Linked DNA regions of Homo sapiens. The protein of the gene in region 4 purifies or fractionates together with the protein of the main gene of each other region. This does not show direct contact. Each region holds a gene or a part of one and is shown on either strand. Other genes may lie near its edges.

Region 1 (3,500 bases), on a different chromosome or scaffold from region 4:
CCTAATAATTTTCAAAAAACTCTCAAATACATGGGCAAGCACATCAAGTTTGGCTTTACTAGCAGAAAGCAAATTTAATTCCAGCATACAAATCTCAGGATAAATTATTTCCCCTTGAGTGAGGTTTTCGAGTAAGTCATTTGGACTGCTTGATGCACTGAAACCTTCTGTTTCAGACTTTAAGTCTACCCCTGAAAAGAGAAAAGCGAAAGATTACTTGTATTCCCTAAACACTAAATATTTCAAACTTCATTAATCATTTAGAAGATCTAGTGGCAAAAATAGTAATTCAGAGGATGCTTACAAAACCTTTTCCAATCTTTTCCTATAACACAACTTTTGACAATGATATGGAAATTTTGAAGATTAATGAGTTCCCTTAAAAGCAATTTTCATCTTCAATAGAACTACAAATTTTACAAATAAGAATTTTTACAGACATATGATAGAGATTTAACACATCCCATGGACACAACTTTAAAAAAAAAAAACCTATTCAAACTTTCTGACCCCCCCCTCAAATACCTAAATCACAGAGCAGTTCAATTTGCCTACCCAAATCTTTGTGAAAATAGTAGGCTTGACTAGTGGTTGGAAGAATGATCAATTTTGCCTTCTTCATAAGTGAGAAACAGACTCTGTCTTATTGAATATTGCATTTTGGAAAATTTGACTTATATGATCTTTTAAGACTGCTGTGCTCTTAATAAAATGTTGATACAGTTAAGAAATTTATAAATTTCTACCTAGATCAGAATTCTTTAAGTTGAGATCTACTTAGCAAACATAAAAAAGGAGGAAATCCAAAATTATAAAGTCAAATCTGTACTATGGTAAGCTGTACTATAAAAAAATTAATAAACCAATATTTTTTCAAAAAGCACCAGTCATGGGTCCATCAAGCCCTTTAAGTAAGATATCAGTGATTATTCCCATTCACTAGATGAGAGCGAGAAAACTGACTGTGAGGAAGATATCCTACTGAGAACTCAGTGAAGACTAGCAGTGGCTGGGTGCGGTGGCTCACGCCTGTAATCCCAGCACTTTGGGAGGCCGAGGCGGGTGGATCACGAAGTCAGGAGTTCGAGACTAGCCTGGGCAACATGGTGAAACCCCATCTCTACTAAAAATATAACAATTAGCTGGGCATGGTGGCGGGCTCCTGAAATCCTAGCTACTTGGGAGGCAGAGGTAGAAGAATAGCTTGAACCTGGGAGATGGAGGTTGCAGTGAGTCGAGATCACGCCACTGCACTCTAGCCTGGGCGACAGAGCAAGACTCCATTTCAAAAAAAAAAAAAAAAAAAAAAAAAAACTAGCAGTACTGGGACACTCACAAGGTCAGCATATAAAAAGATGGAGTCTTGCCAGAAGTCTCTTGGCTCTAATCAACCCATCTTTTCCATTCTACTCATTTTAAGTCCAAAGACAAGGGAGGAAAGGATCATAGGCAATATAGTTCCATCCTAAAGACAAATTGAGCTGTGGTAAACTAAGAAGAAATCTATGCTTGGCTGTCACAGACAGGTGTCTGCATTCCTGTATTATGTATTCTTTATAACAAACTGCCTGAATGCTCTTCCTGCCAGTGTTTGTCTGCCTAGCTTGTTTTCATTTAGTCCTCAATGTAAACATTGCCTCTTCAGAAAGGACTTCCCTCACCACCCAGTTACTAATACGACATCACCCAGTTTATCGATTTCTATTTTATTATCTATTTCTGGTATTTATTGTCTTTCACACTAGAATATACATGAAATTGGGGACTCTGTCCTTCACTCCATGTTCTTAACCACTCAGATGATGTTTGTGATAACAAACTATATCACATTGTTGCATATATGAATGCCAGACTGTTGGGAAGATCAATAAAAAGATTATGCAACACACTTGTTAAACTGTAAGGCAATACAAAATTCTAAAGTGGTATTATTATGAACCATTTTGCTATTTAATGATCTGGCTTGCAGATCTAATTACAAGCACTTCAATGATATTTTACCATCATCCTGGGTTTCGCCATCTTCAGGATTGCTTTCACTATCTGCTTCGTAACCTTCTTCTTCAACTAAAAGTTTAAAACTACAACACTGAGAATCCTCAGCTTCTTCTGAAAAATCACCAGGCTGGGATGACAATTCTTCTGCAGATTGATGACTCTATAAATCAGTGTAATTCAAAGGTTGTAACATTTGCTTGTTTTTAGTAATAGAATACTTATTACTCAAAAGTCATGTTAAGGACAGTTTCAATATTTTCTTGAAGAAAAAAACTTAGTAAACAATATGAATCATTATAAATTATGAAATTCACTCAGCAAAATTTCCCAGATCCTTTCAGACAACTTAATACCTCAAAAAGGGGGTTTCTAACAAAGTAAGTTATAGGTCATTTCAGTTTAATAAATAAATCTATGTAAGAAATTTCATTCTAGTTATACAATTGGAAATGACAAAAAACCACAATGTGGTAAAATTTTACTTCATACAATTTAATACTAATATATATTATTTGTGCACATTTGTTAATAAAAAAGATTTTTTCATAAGGATTTTTATAAATGCCTTATAAGTTAGGTAACTAGAGCAGACAAGACATTTTTTTCAAAGGGATTAATTAAAAGATCTCAGAATGCAACTGTCTACATAACAAGCATCTCAGAAGTCAAGAGTTCCAGTACTAACTTCCTGTGTAAGAAAGAAATTTTCCTTTTCTTATAAAAATTCCACTAATACCTTCATTTTAGAAAACATTTTCACTTAAAGAAGCTCAGAATACTTCATCATTGTAACAACAATAAAAGGTAGAATAAAGTAGGTATTTTAACATTTTACAGTTAGTCAATTAATTCAGTAATATGATGAACGTATTCATAGCTATTTCAGCATGTTTTTAAGTTATGGCAAATAGTAACATAAAATGTTATTTCAAAACCTTATAAAACATTATATATATGGCTAGATCAAGGAGCTAAAAGGAGAAGTTATATAAAAAATAAAGGACAGATGGCAACTAAAGGTAAAATAAACATAAAATGAGAGGGAAACAAGCCAATTATGTACCACATAATTTTAGGAAAGAAAATTACAACAGTTGTTTTAGGAAAAAATGTTAAACAACTAAAACACTGTGACTGCTATTTTCTATGTAGGCACTAGTCATTTTTATGTTGAATGATTTAAAATTAATGTGAGTAGAGAGTTCTGGAAATATTAGCTATACCACCAAAGAACCAGATAGGATAGGTAAATCACCACCATCCCTGAATTAGCATTTAATACACTATCAGGTATATGTAAAATATACCAAATCAAGTAATATATTTCTGTCTTAACTCGAAGTAATTCTCAGTAAATTTCCAGATTAGATAAGGAAAAGCTTATCATATCACTCTCCTGTTATGTATAAGACAGGGCAATGACAAAATACTGTCCATCCCATCACATATCCATCACGAGGAGATAAGATCCACTGAACTCATCTGACCAAGTCCTAGTCCAT
Region 2 (3,500 bases), on a different chromosome or scaffold from region 4:
AAGATGGCAATATTGCAAGGTGGCTAAATATTAAAAGGAATAAAGAATGCTCACTGGCAAAAGGCTTTTAAAGTATGTTCCCTCTATCAACGCACAAGCATTCATACTATACTCACCTGGCACATGGACACAAGTAAACGTTCAAAATGTCCTGATGTATCTGACCTAATGTCCTTTTCAAGGTCTCGTCCAAATTCTGACTGATAACATCTGACAATTTCTCGGATTTCCTGATTTGTTCTTGTGCACAAAATCTCAATCAATACACGTTCCTGAGTTCCTGCTCCCTACATGAAATGAAGGGAAGATTATACAAAGAAAAATGAAATTTCTGCAAGTAATTAAATCTTCGTCAAATATTTCTTTGTTCTGTAGAACTAAAAACTATATATTCAGATGGATGATGTGAAATAAAGAATTGCTTTAATTACCACTGTAAATTCAGAACTGTCATAATTTGTACGGTTTTACATATGAAATAGGACAAAATATTCATAATAAATGACATATAGTAGTACCTGCATTGCTTTCCGTAAGCTCCAGGCATCGTAATACGTAGGAGGCATGAAGAGGGCCAGGATCAGTTCTTCCATATTTCCACTTAACTCTGATTTGAGATCTTTGATTAAATCCTATTTAATCACAAATACAAGCTAAGTATATGTGTTCTCCAAATTTTGTCACTTAAATCTTTTAAGGAAAATACAAAAAAAGAAATGGAATTGCTTTATAAAAACCTAAATTTGAAAGCTGAATGTTAATATACTAAGAAGTAAATAAAGGCCAGGCGCGGTGGCTCATGCCTGTAATCCCAGCACTTTGGGAGGTCAAGGCAGGAGGATCATGAGGTCAGGAGATCAAGACCATCCTGGTTAACACGGTGAAACCCTGTCTCTACTAAAAACACAAAAAATTAACCGGGAGTGGTGGCAGGCACCTGTAGTCCCAGGTCCTCGGGAGGCTGACACAAGAGAACAGCGTGAACCTGGGAGGCAGAGCTTGCAGTGAGCTGAGATCGCACCACTGCACTCCAGCCTGGGCGACAGAGCAAGACTCCGTCTCAAAAAAAAAAATAAATAAATAGAAATAAAAAAGAAGTAAATAAATTTAAAGTCTGTTACACTTACACATTTATTACACTCAAGCAGATCTATTTTATTCATTCTATCAATAAACATTTAATAAAATCTTATTCCACTCTACCAGGTACAAAAACAAGGGATATATGAAACAAAGAATTATTCAAACTGACAAAATGATAAACAGATATTTACTTAGTAAAAGGAACTGTTCTTGGTTCTATGAGGAAGTAGAAACCATTATCATCTTGTTCTTATTTGTTTTTTGTTGTTATTTTTTTTGAGACAGAGTCTCGCTCTGTGGCCCAGGCTGGAATGCAGTGGTGTGATCTCGGCTAACTGCAACCTCTGCCTCCTGGGTTCAAGCGCTTCTCCTTCCTCAGCCCCCTGAGTAGCTGGGACTACAGGCACATCCCACCACGCCAGGCTAATTTTTGTATTTTTAGTAGAGATGGGGTTTCACATGTTGGCCAGGCTGGTCTTGAATGCCTGACCCCAAGTGATACACCCGCCTTGGCCTCCCGAAGTGCTGGCATTACACACATGAACCACTGTGCCCAGCCGATATTGTTCTTATTTGGAAAGATACACATCTAAAAAAAAAATAATGTAAGGTAACCTGTACTCTAGCACTGGGTAAGTAGCATAGAAATAAGTAATAGAGAAAGTTGAAACAGAAAAAGTTCAAAGTCAGCTGGAGAGCTCAGAGAAAAATGTAAAAATTAGCATGCAAAGACGAAGGAGAAAGGTATTTCAGGTAAGAAGGAACACCACCAAGGAACAGAGAAGGGGTTCCCAGCCTTGACTCTTCATTACATTCATTGTGGAGCTTTAAAAAAAAAAAGAAAAACATTGATGTCCAGGACTAAGACTCAGAGATTCTGTGTATTTTTAAGTTTTAAAGGAAATTACGATGTTCAGTTAAGGTTGAGAATTACTCGTATAGAGCCAAGAATGAGCAAAGCTTGTTCAATGGAACAATAAGACAACCGGTTTTGCTACAGAGGAAGGTTTTCATAATAGATGAGTTAAAACAAAGTTGTAACTAAATCTTGGATTATTACACTGAATGCCAAGCTAAAGAATATGGACTTGATTCTGTTTGCTGGGAGGAACCACTGGAAACTTTTCATGCAAGAAAATGGCACTGATGTAGCAACAATATTCAGAATGGATGATGGTGACAAAGAAGCTATAGATGAAAACATTTAGGCTACTGGAATATTTAGTTAAGAGGTAATAAAGTCTTGGACTTGAATGGTAACAATGGAAATGAGAAGGAACAAAGTAGACAAAAGAAACATTTTAAAGGGCCATTTTATAGATTAGATCAATAAAAACTAGTAAATAACCAACTGCTAGGACAAAGCATACAGAATACTCCCTATGATAAAAGAAAAACATGGACTCAAAGATGACTATAGCAGGCTAGAAAAACAGTGTTTTACTAATTAGGAAGTTAAGAAAAGAGGTGGCTAGTGGTACGGAAATTAGATTGTTAGTTTTAATTCTAAAGCAATATATAAAAAAACTTGAGACAGCATTGTGCAGACTAGATAAAAAATTCATAACATGGAAAATATCTTTGTGAGAATAGTGAGTCTGATGTTGAAGCTTAAGGAGATCTAGGGTTTGTGTTGCATAATCAGTCACTGGGCTGGGCAGACAGGGAAAGGCAAAATAGAATAAGCAAGGTGGGACCAATCAATGGACCACTACCCCATTCTGAGAAATATAAACTAGATGCAGAGAACATTAGGATATTTTTAGGATTCCTATCTAAATGGCAAAGCAGGTCAGGCGTGGTGGCTCATGCCTGTAATCCCAGCACTTTGGGAGGCCAAGGCAGGCAGATCACATGAGGCCAAGAGTTTGAGACCACACTTGCTAACATGGCAAAATCCCGTCTCTACTAAAAGTACAAAAATTAGCTGGGTGTGGTGGCAGACACCTATAATTCCAGCTACTCGAGAGGCTGAGGCACGAAAATCGCTCTTGCCTGGAAAGTGGAGGCTGCAGTGAGCGGAGATCATGCCACTGCACTCCAGCCTTTTGAGACTCTGTCTCAAAAAAAAGTAAAAAAAAAAAAAAAAAAAGCAAAGCAGTGCTATCCATGTTTTCCCATTACATCTGAGGAACAATGGCATTTTTTAGCCATAGAATCTTGTTGGATTTAGAAACTGATCATCCATTCAACAAGTACTAAGTGGCTACTTGCCATTATATACTTGGTACTGTAATACAAAGATGACTATGACCATGGTTTGTCCTATGGGAGCTCAGTTTTTGGGGGTGGGCCGTGAGATTAGTAATAACAGAGGTTTTACAAAGTGCTATGGGACTACAGTATTAAGAAGCAGCTAAATTCTGTCCAGACTAATGAAAGAAACTTCAGAGTAGCTGATATTTAAGCCAAATCTT
Region 3 (3,500 bases), about 35 Mb from region 4:
TCTTGCCACTCCCATATGCCTGGAACTGGATCAATTCAAATGTCTGCTTTCTCCAGGCCTACAACAGACTACTCCATTGCCAAAGGGGGTTACACACACACACACACACACACACACACACGCACACACTCTTACTTTTTGAAGCAGATGTCATTCTTTTGTTTTTTTCGAGAGTCTCACACTGTTACCCAGGGTGGAGTGCAGTGGTGCAATCATAGCTTGCTGTGGCCTCGACCTCCTGGGCTCAAGGGATCCTCCCACTCCAAGCTCCCAAGTAGCTGGGACATAAGCACACATCACTGCGCCAGGTTGATTTTTTGTAGAGAGAGGGTCTCACTTTGTTGCCCAGATTGGTCTCAAATTCCTGGGCTCAAGCAATCCTCCTGCCTTGGCCTCCCAAAGTGCTTGGATTACAGGTGTGAGCCACCGTGCCTGTCCTGCTCTATCCTTCTATTTCACAAAAACAAAACACAGAAAGGAACGCTAACTTCCTTTCCTTCCCACTTCTTTGTAATTACAATGGAAGATACTTCTCATCTGGTTCCTACATCTTCTCATGTACTTAGTCAAGAATACCAGTACTTAATATTATTATCTATTCCCTCTTTTTTTTCCCTTTTTTTTGAGACGGAGTCTCGCTCTGTCGCCCAGGCTCAAGTGCCCGCCACCATGCCCGGCTAATTTTTTGTATTTTTAGTAGAGACGGGGTTTCACCATGTTAGCCAGGATGGTCTCGATCTCCTGACCTCGTGATCTGCCCGCCTCGGCCTCCCAAAGTGCCGGGATTACAGGCGTGAGCCACCGCACCCAGCTTTTCCCTCCTTTCTAATCTTCCTTTGCACATACCTTTCCTTCCCACTTCTCTGTAATTACAATGGAAGATGTTAATCTTGTCTGGTTCCTACTTTTTCTCATATACTCAGTCAAAAATACCAGTACTCAATATCATTATCTATTCCCTCTCTTTTTTCCCCCTTTCTTTTCTTTTTTTCAATCTTTGACCTTATTTGATACTCTCCTAACTTTTTAAAAAACATCCAAATCACCTCTTGATCTCAAAGCTACCTCTCCAACTACCATCTCTTCAGCCTTCCCTCAGTCAAATTTCTTTAACAAGTTTTTTTGGCCAGGCACAGTGGCATGAACCTATTGTCTCAGCTATTCAAGAGGCTGATGAGGATTGTAAGTTCAAGTTCAAGCTCAGCTTGGGCAAAATAAGGAGACCCATTTGCCAAAAAAAAAAAAAAAAGAATTCTTGGAAGACTCTCAGAAAATGGCAGTGGCACAGTTTTATCTCTCTTCAAATCTCCACATGGAATGAGAGCTCTGGACAGCAAAACCGAGACCCAAACCAAAACCCTGGCCAGACACAGTGGCTCACGTCCATAATCCCAACACTTTGGGAAGCCGAGGTGGGTGGATCACCTGAGACCAGGAGTTCGAGACCAGCCTGGCCAACATGGTAAAACCGCGTCTCTACTAAAAATGCAAAAATTAGCCAGGCATGGTGGCACGCACCTGTAATCCCAGCTACGCAGGAGGCTGAGGCACAAGAATAGCTTGAATCTGGAAGGCAAAGCCACTGCACTCCAGCCTGGGCGACAGCAAGACTCTGTCTCAAAAAATAAAAAAGAAACCAAAACCTTCAGACAACACTGCAACAAAGTTAAGTTACCAGGTATCCCCCAAGACCCAAAATGTAAGTGCATAACAAAGCACCAACAGCTGTAGGACCTGTATAGTACTGGTGTCCACGCAGGAGAAAGCAGAGAGAAAGCAAATGGACCTGAGAACAGGAGAACACTGAAATAATCAACAGGCAGTCAAGGGAAAGCACAACAGTCAAAACTGAGAACAGCACTTACAACTAGCAAGGGGGCCACACACGGTGGCTCATGCCTGTAATCCCATCACTTTGGGAGGCCAAGGTGGGTGGATCATCTGAGTCAGGAGTTCGAGACCAGCCTGGAAAACATGGTGAAACCTCATCTCTACTAAAAATACAAAAATTAGCTGGGCACGGTGACACACGAGGTCCCAGCTACTCAGGAGGCTAAGGCAGGAGAATCGCTTGAACCCAGGAGACGGAGATTGCAGTTAGCTGAGATTGCGCCACTGCACTCCAGTCTGGGCGACAGAGTGAGACTCTGTCTTAAAAAAAAAAAAGGTCTGAAGGGATGAAGCTGACCTGGCTGCCAGGGCTTCCTTCTGGGGACAGGGCCCTACACTGTCCCTAGAAGGGAGTTCCTAGAAGAGAAACTGTTGAGAGCAGGACCAAATTCAGTAGGACAGGGATGGTCCAGAACAAGCTGGGAAAGGGAACAAAAGCAACAAATCTCAGAAAGCAAGCCACCATATTTCTCACCACCACAGAAAAACAACAGAAGCAGCTCTGTGAAGTTAGAAAAAGCTATTCTAAATCATGCTTCCTTCGAAAAGACCAGGAAAACTAATTTTACATAAAAATGAACAGAAAATACAGAAGTTAAATCCCATAAAGTTATAATAAGAAAAAATAATAGCATTCCTACAGACAATGAAAGCATGCCAGAAAGACATCCGCATATCATATCAAAATTGCAACTTCTATTTCAAAATAAGCTAAAAAGACATTAAGAAAATTATATAAGGCATGAAAGAACATCAATCAGAATTGGAAAAACTCAAAAATGAAATGAGAACTCAGAAAGGTATGAGCAATTAGGAATCAAAAACTATTTACCAGGTATCACCACCTAAAAGTCCCACACCTTCTCGATCTCAAAACATCCAAAACCTAACCCACAACTGTCCTTCCAGAACTCTTCTCCTGGGGTCCCTTCCTTAACAGTTAACACCATTCAACACCATTCATCAACCTGCACATTCCTTTGACTCCTTTTTCTTTTTCTGAGTCAGGGTCTCACTTTGTTGTCCAGGCTGGAGTGCTGTGGAGTGATCACAGCTCTACTGCTTTGACCTCCCTGGGCTTAGATGATCCTCCTGCCTGAACCTCCTCAGTAGCTGGGACCACAGGCCTGCGCCACCAAGACCGGATAATTTTTTTTTCTACTTTTCTTTTGTAGAGACAGGATTTTTCCATGTTGCCCAGGTGGGTCTCAGGCTCCTGGGCTCAAGCAATCCACCTGCCTCAGCCTCCCAAAATGCTGTGATTACAGGCATGAGCCAAGGTACCTGGCCTCCTTTGACTCCTTAATTTAGGTTCCACATTCAATCAATGAAGGGGTTGTTAGTACACTAGAATCTCTCTCTAATCTGTCCCACATCTTGCCATTCCAACAAGTATGAACCTTCTTTAGGGGCACCATCGTCATGCTCCTTGGACTATCCTAACAACCTCTAAACAGCTCTTCTGCCTCTAGTCTTCCTTTGTGCCTCACCCACAATTCATCCCCCACATTTAAGCCTTCAGTGGTACTTCTTTCCTAGCCATTAGGAAAACATCCAAACTCCCTTACATATAGAATGGTAAGCTGCTATAAATTCACAATCCCCAAAAC
Region 4 (3,476 bases):
GGTGCGCTGTTGGGGTGGAGCAGGACTTGAACCCAGGCTCCCTGATGGGCGTGTTTCCAGTGTACTTAGGACACACTGGGCCAAGACACATGGGCTCTGGATGTCCTTAGCCCTCTCTTCCTCTTTCTTTCTCTGGCCCCAGTATGCAGACTCGGACAGCGGGGATGACTCTGACAAGCGCTCTTGTGAAGAGAGCTGGAGGCTCATCTCCTCCTTGCGGGAGCAGCTGCCGCCCACCACGGTCCAGACCATTGTCAAACGCTGTGGTCTGCCCAGCAGTGGCAAGCGCAGGGCCCCTCGCAGGGTTTATCAGATCCCCCAGCGACGCAGGCTGCAGGGCAAAGACCCCCGCTGGGCCACCATGGCTGACCTGAAGATGCAGGCGGTGAAGGAGATCTGCTACGAGGTGGCCCTGGCTGACTTCCGCCACGGGCGGGCTGAGATTGAGGCCCTGGCCGCCCTCAAGATGCGGGAGCTGTGTCGCACCTATGGCAAGCCAGACGGCCCCGGAGACGCCTGGAGGGCTGTGGCCCGGGATGTCTGGGACACTGTAGGCGAGGAGGAAGGAGGTGGAGCTGGCAGTGGTGGTGGCAGTGAGGAGGGAGCCCGAGGGGCGGAGGTGGAGGACCTCCGGGCCCACATCGACAAGCTGACGGGGATTCTGCAGGAGGTGAAGCTGCAGAACAGCAGCAAGGACCGGGAGCTGCAGGCCCTGCGGGACCGCATGCTCCGCATGGAGAGGGTCATCCCCCTGGCCCAGGTAGGACTGGCCTTCTGCCTCCCTTCTCTCCTCCCTCGGCTCTTCACTTTAGGAGTCTGAACCTTCCATCTCAGAGCCTAACCTTCCCCAAGTCTGGAAAAAATTGCATTGAAGTATAGTACGTTTTTTTCAATATTGTTTACGAACCACATGCCTCGCTGTCACCAGGCTGCTAATTAAAATAGATTCCCGGGTTCCACCCCAGACCTACTGAATCCACATCTTTGGGGACAAATCTGCATTTATAATAAGCTCTGGGTGTTTCTGAAATACAGTGAAGTCTAAGACCCACTGATATAAAGTTTGCAGTTTTGTTTTGTTTCTGAGGTGAAGTCTTGCTCTGTTGCCAGTCTGGAGTGCAGTGGCACAATCTCGGCTCACTGCAACTTCCGCCTCCCAGGTTCAAGCCATTCTCCTGCCTCAGCCTCCTGAGTAGCTGGGACTACAGGCGCGCACCACCACACCCGGCTAATTTTTTTTTTTTGTATTTTAGTAGAGACGGGGTTTCACCATGTTGGCCAGGATGGTCTTGATCTCTTGACCTTGTGATCCGCCCACCTCAGCTTCCCAAAGTGCTGCGATTACAGGCGTGAGCCACTGCGCCCGGCCCTAAACCACTATTTTTCGAGCTTCCTTATCTCTAGGCTTTTCTCTGGACCCTTTGACATCCAGCCACTCCAGGTCCCTCTTGAATCCACATGTCCTGAGGATTCAGCTCTCCTCACATCCCTTCTCCTTTTCTCACTCCTCCCTCCCAGGATCATGAGGATGAGAATGAAGAAGGTGGTGAGGTCCCCTGGGCCCCGCCTGAAGGATCAGAGGCAGCAGAGGAGGCAGCCCCCAGTGACCGCATGCCGTCAGCCCGGCCCCCCTCGCCACCACTGTCAAGCTGGGAGCGGGTGTCACGGCTCATGGAGGAGGACCCTGCCTTCCGTCGTGGTCGTCTTCGCTGGCTCAAGCAGGAGCAGCTACGGCTGCAGGGACTGCAGGGCTCTGGGGGCCGGGGCGGGGGGCTGCGCAGGCCCCCAGCCCGCTTTGTGCCCCCTCACGACTGCAAGCTACGCTTCCCCTTCAAGAGCAACCCCCAGCACCGGGAGTCTTGGCCAGGGATGGGGAGCGGGGAGGCTCCAACTCCGCTCCAACCCCCTGAGGAGGTCACTCCCCATCCAGCCACCCCTGCCCGCCGGCCTCCGAGTCCCCGAAGGTCCCACCATCCCCGCAGGAACTCCCTGGATGGAGGGGGCCGATCCCGGGGAGCGGGTTCTGCACAGCCTGAACCCCAGCACTTCCAGCCCAAAAAGCACAACTCTTATCCCCAGCCACCCCAACCCTACCCAGCCCAGCGGCCCCCAGGGCCCCGCTACCCCCCATACACTACTCCCCCACGAATGAGACGGCAGCGTTCTGCCCCTGACCTCAAGGAGAGTGGGGCAGCTGTGTGAGTCCCACATCCTGGGCAGAGGGCCTGGTGGGGCCCCTTGCTAGGAGAAGGGAAGACGCCCGAGACGCTGCTTCCCCAGAAGTGCTGGGGCAGGGAGGCCCAGGAGATGAGAGAGAAGGTCCGAGTAGGTGATAGAAGACAAGGGGGAGACCGAGCCGGAGGCTGAGGAAAGGAAGAGGGCACGGAGTTGCCAGGAGCAAACCAAAGTGAAGAGAGAGATAGGAAGCTGCCTCGGGGCCACCCCTTGCAAAGGGGGTGTGTCCCACAAACGCTGCTATGGGTGGGGTGGGGGGCTGGGGTGCTGCGTAGCCAGTGTTTGACTTTCTTTTCAAGTGGGGGAAAGTGGGAGAGGACTGAGAGTGAGGCAAGTTCTCCCCAGCCCCTGTCCGTCTGTCTGTCTGTCTGTGGTGGTTTCTGTTTCTTGGGAGGCATGGTAGGATCATAAGTCATTCCCCTCCCCTTCCAGGCCTCCTGCTATATTTGGGGGACCTGACTGGTTTGGCTGGAGTCCCATGAGGATGTGGGCCCTTTAATAAAGGATAGCAAACAGGGAGCTTGTGGCCTGTTTGTTTTGGGTTTTCATGGAGGTGTAGGTTATATAAGGCAATGGCACAGGTCTTAAGCATACTTATCAGTGAAGTATTGTATGTGTGCTCTGTGCAGGCACCACCCAGATCTGGATATAAGAATGTTTCCATCTTGTCTTCCTGAACTTCACCCTCCTGTCTCTTCCTTCAGGGTGCGCAGCCCGATCTTTTCCCCGCTTTTTTTTTTTGGGAGACAGGGTCTTGCTTTGTTGCCCAGGCTGGAGGTACAGTCTTGGCTCACTGCAGCCTCCGCCTCCTGAGTAGCTGGGATTACAGGCATGTGCCACCACGCCCGGCTCATTACTGTTTTTTTTGTAGTGACGAGGTTTCACCATATTGGCCAGGCTGGTCTCGAACTCCTGATGACCTCAAGTGATCCGCCCACCTTGGCCTCCCAAAGTGGTGGGATTACAGGTGTGAGCCACCGCGCCCGGCCTCCCCTGCTTTCATGTTTGCTTACCCAGTGTCTCAGTCTGTGCCAGCAGCACCACTGTCTGTTATGGACAAAGCACAGAAGCGGGGATGCGAGGGGAGGTAGAGGGACCGCCAGCCTGTCAATGCTTAACTGGCTGTTGCTGACAGATACAGAAGGATTTGTGGGGTACAGAGGAGTTCTGCTTTAAGTCACCTAACTTACTTGAAAGGTCTCCCAAGCAGCCAGTTTCTCTTGATAGTGAATGGGTTGGGC

Evidence for each region.
Region 1: the proteins of KIF1C (region 4) and LYST purify together in Homo sapiens (affinity purification with mass spectrometry; one large-scale study listed by BioGRID and IntAct). This does not show direct contact.
Region 2: the proteins of KIF1C (region 4) and ANXA7 purify together in Homo sapiens (affinity purification with mass spectrometry, with the first as the bait; one large-scale study listed by BioGRID). This does not show direct contact.
Region 3: the proteins of KIF1C (region 4) and CASC3 purify together in Homo sapiens (affinity purification with mass spectrometry; one large-scale study listed by BioGRID and IntAct). This does not show direct contact.

What each region holds. Positions count from the first base shown.
Region 1 is NC_000001.11:235,800,907-235,804,406, forward strand, and holds part of LYST (lysosomal-trafficking regulator), read right to left. Parts: intron 2,159-3,500; coding exon 2,002-2,158; intron 192-2,001; coding exon 1-191. UniProt on the Homo sapiens protein: Adapter protein that regulates and/or fission of intracellular vesicles such as lysosomes. Might regulate trafficking of effectors involved in exocytosis.
Region 2 is NC_000010.11:73,383,059-73,386,558, forward strand, and holds part of ANXA7 (annexin A7), read right to left. Parts: intron 633-3,500; coding exon 519-632; intron 288-518; coding exon 117-287; intron 1-116. UniProt on the Homo sapiens protein: Calcium/phospholipid-binding protein which promotes membrane fusion and is involved in exocytosis.
Region 3 is NC_000017.11:40,147,037-40,150,536, reverse strand, and holds part of CASC3 (protein CASC3), read right to left. Parts: intron 1-3,500. UniProt on the Homo sapiens protein: Required for pre-mRNA splicing as component of the spliceosome. Core component of the splicing-dependent multiprotein exon junction complex (EJC) deposited at splice junctions on mRNAs.
Region 4 is NC_000017.11:5,021,950-5,025,425, forward strand, and holds part of KIF1C (kinesin-like protein KIF1C), read left to right. Parts: intron 1-142; coding exon 143-760; intron 761-1,518; coding exon 1,519-2,202; 3' UTR 2,203-3,476. UniProt on the Homo sapiens protein: Motor required for the retrograde transport of Golgi vesicles to the endoplasmic reticulum. Has a microtubule plus end-directed motility.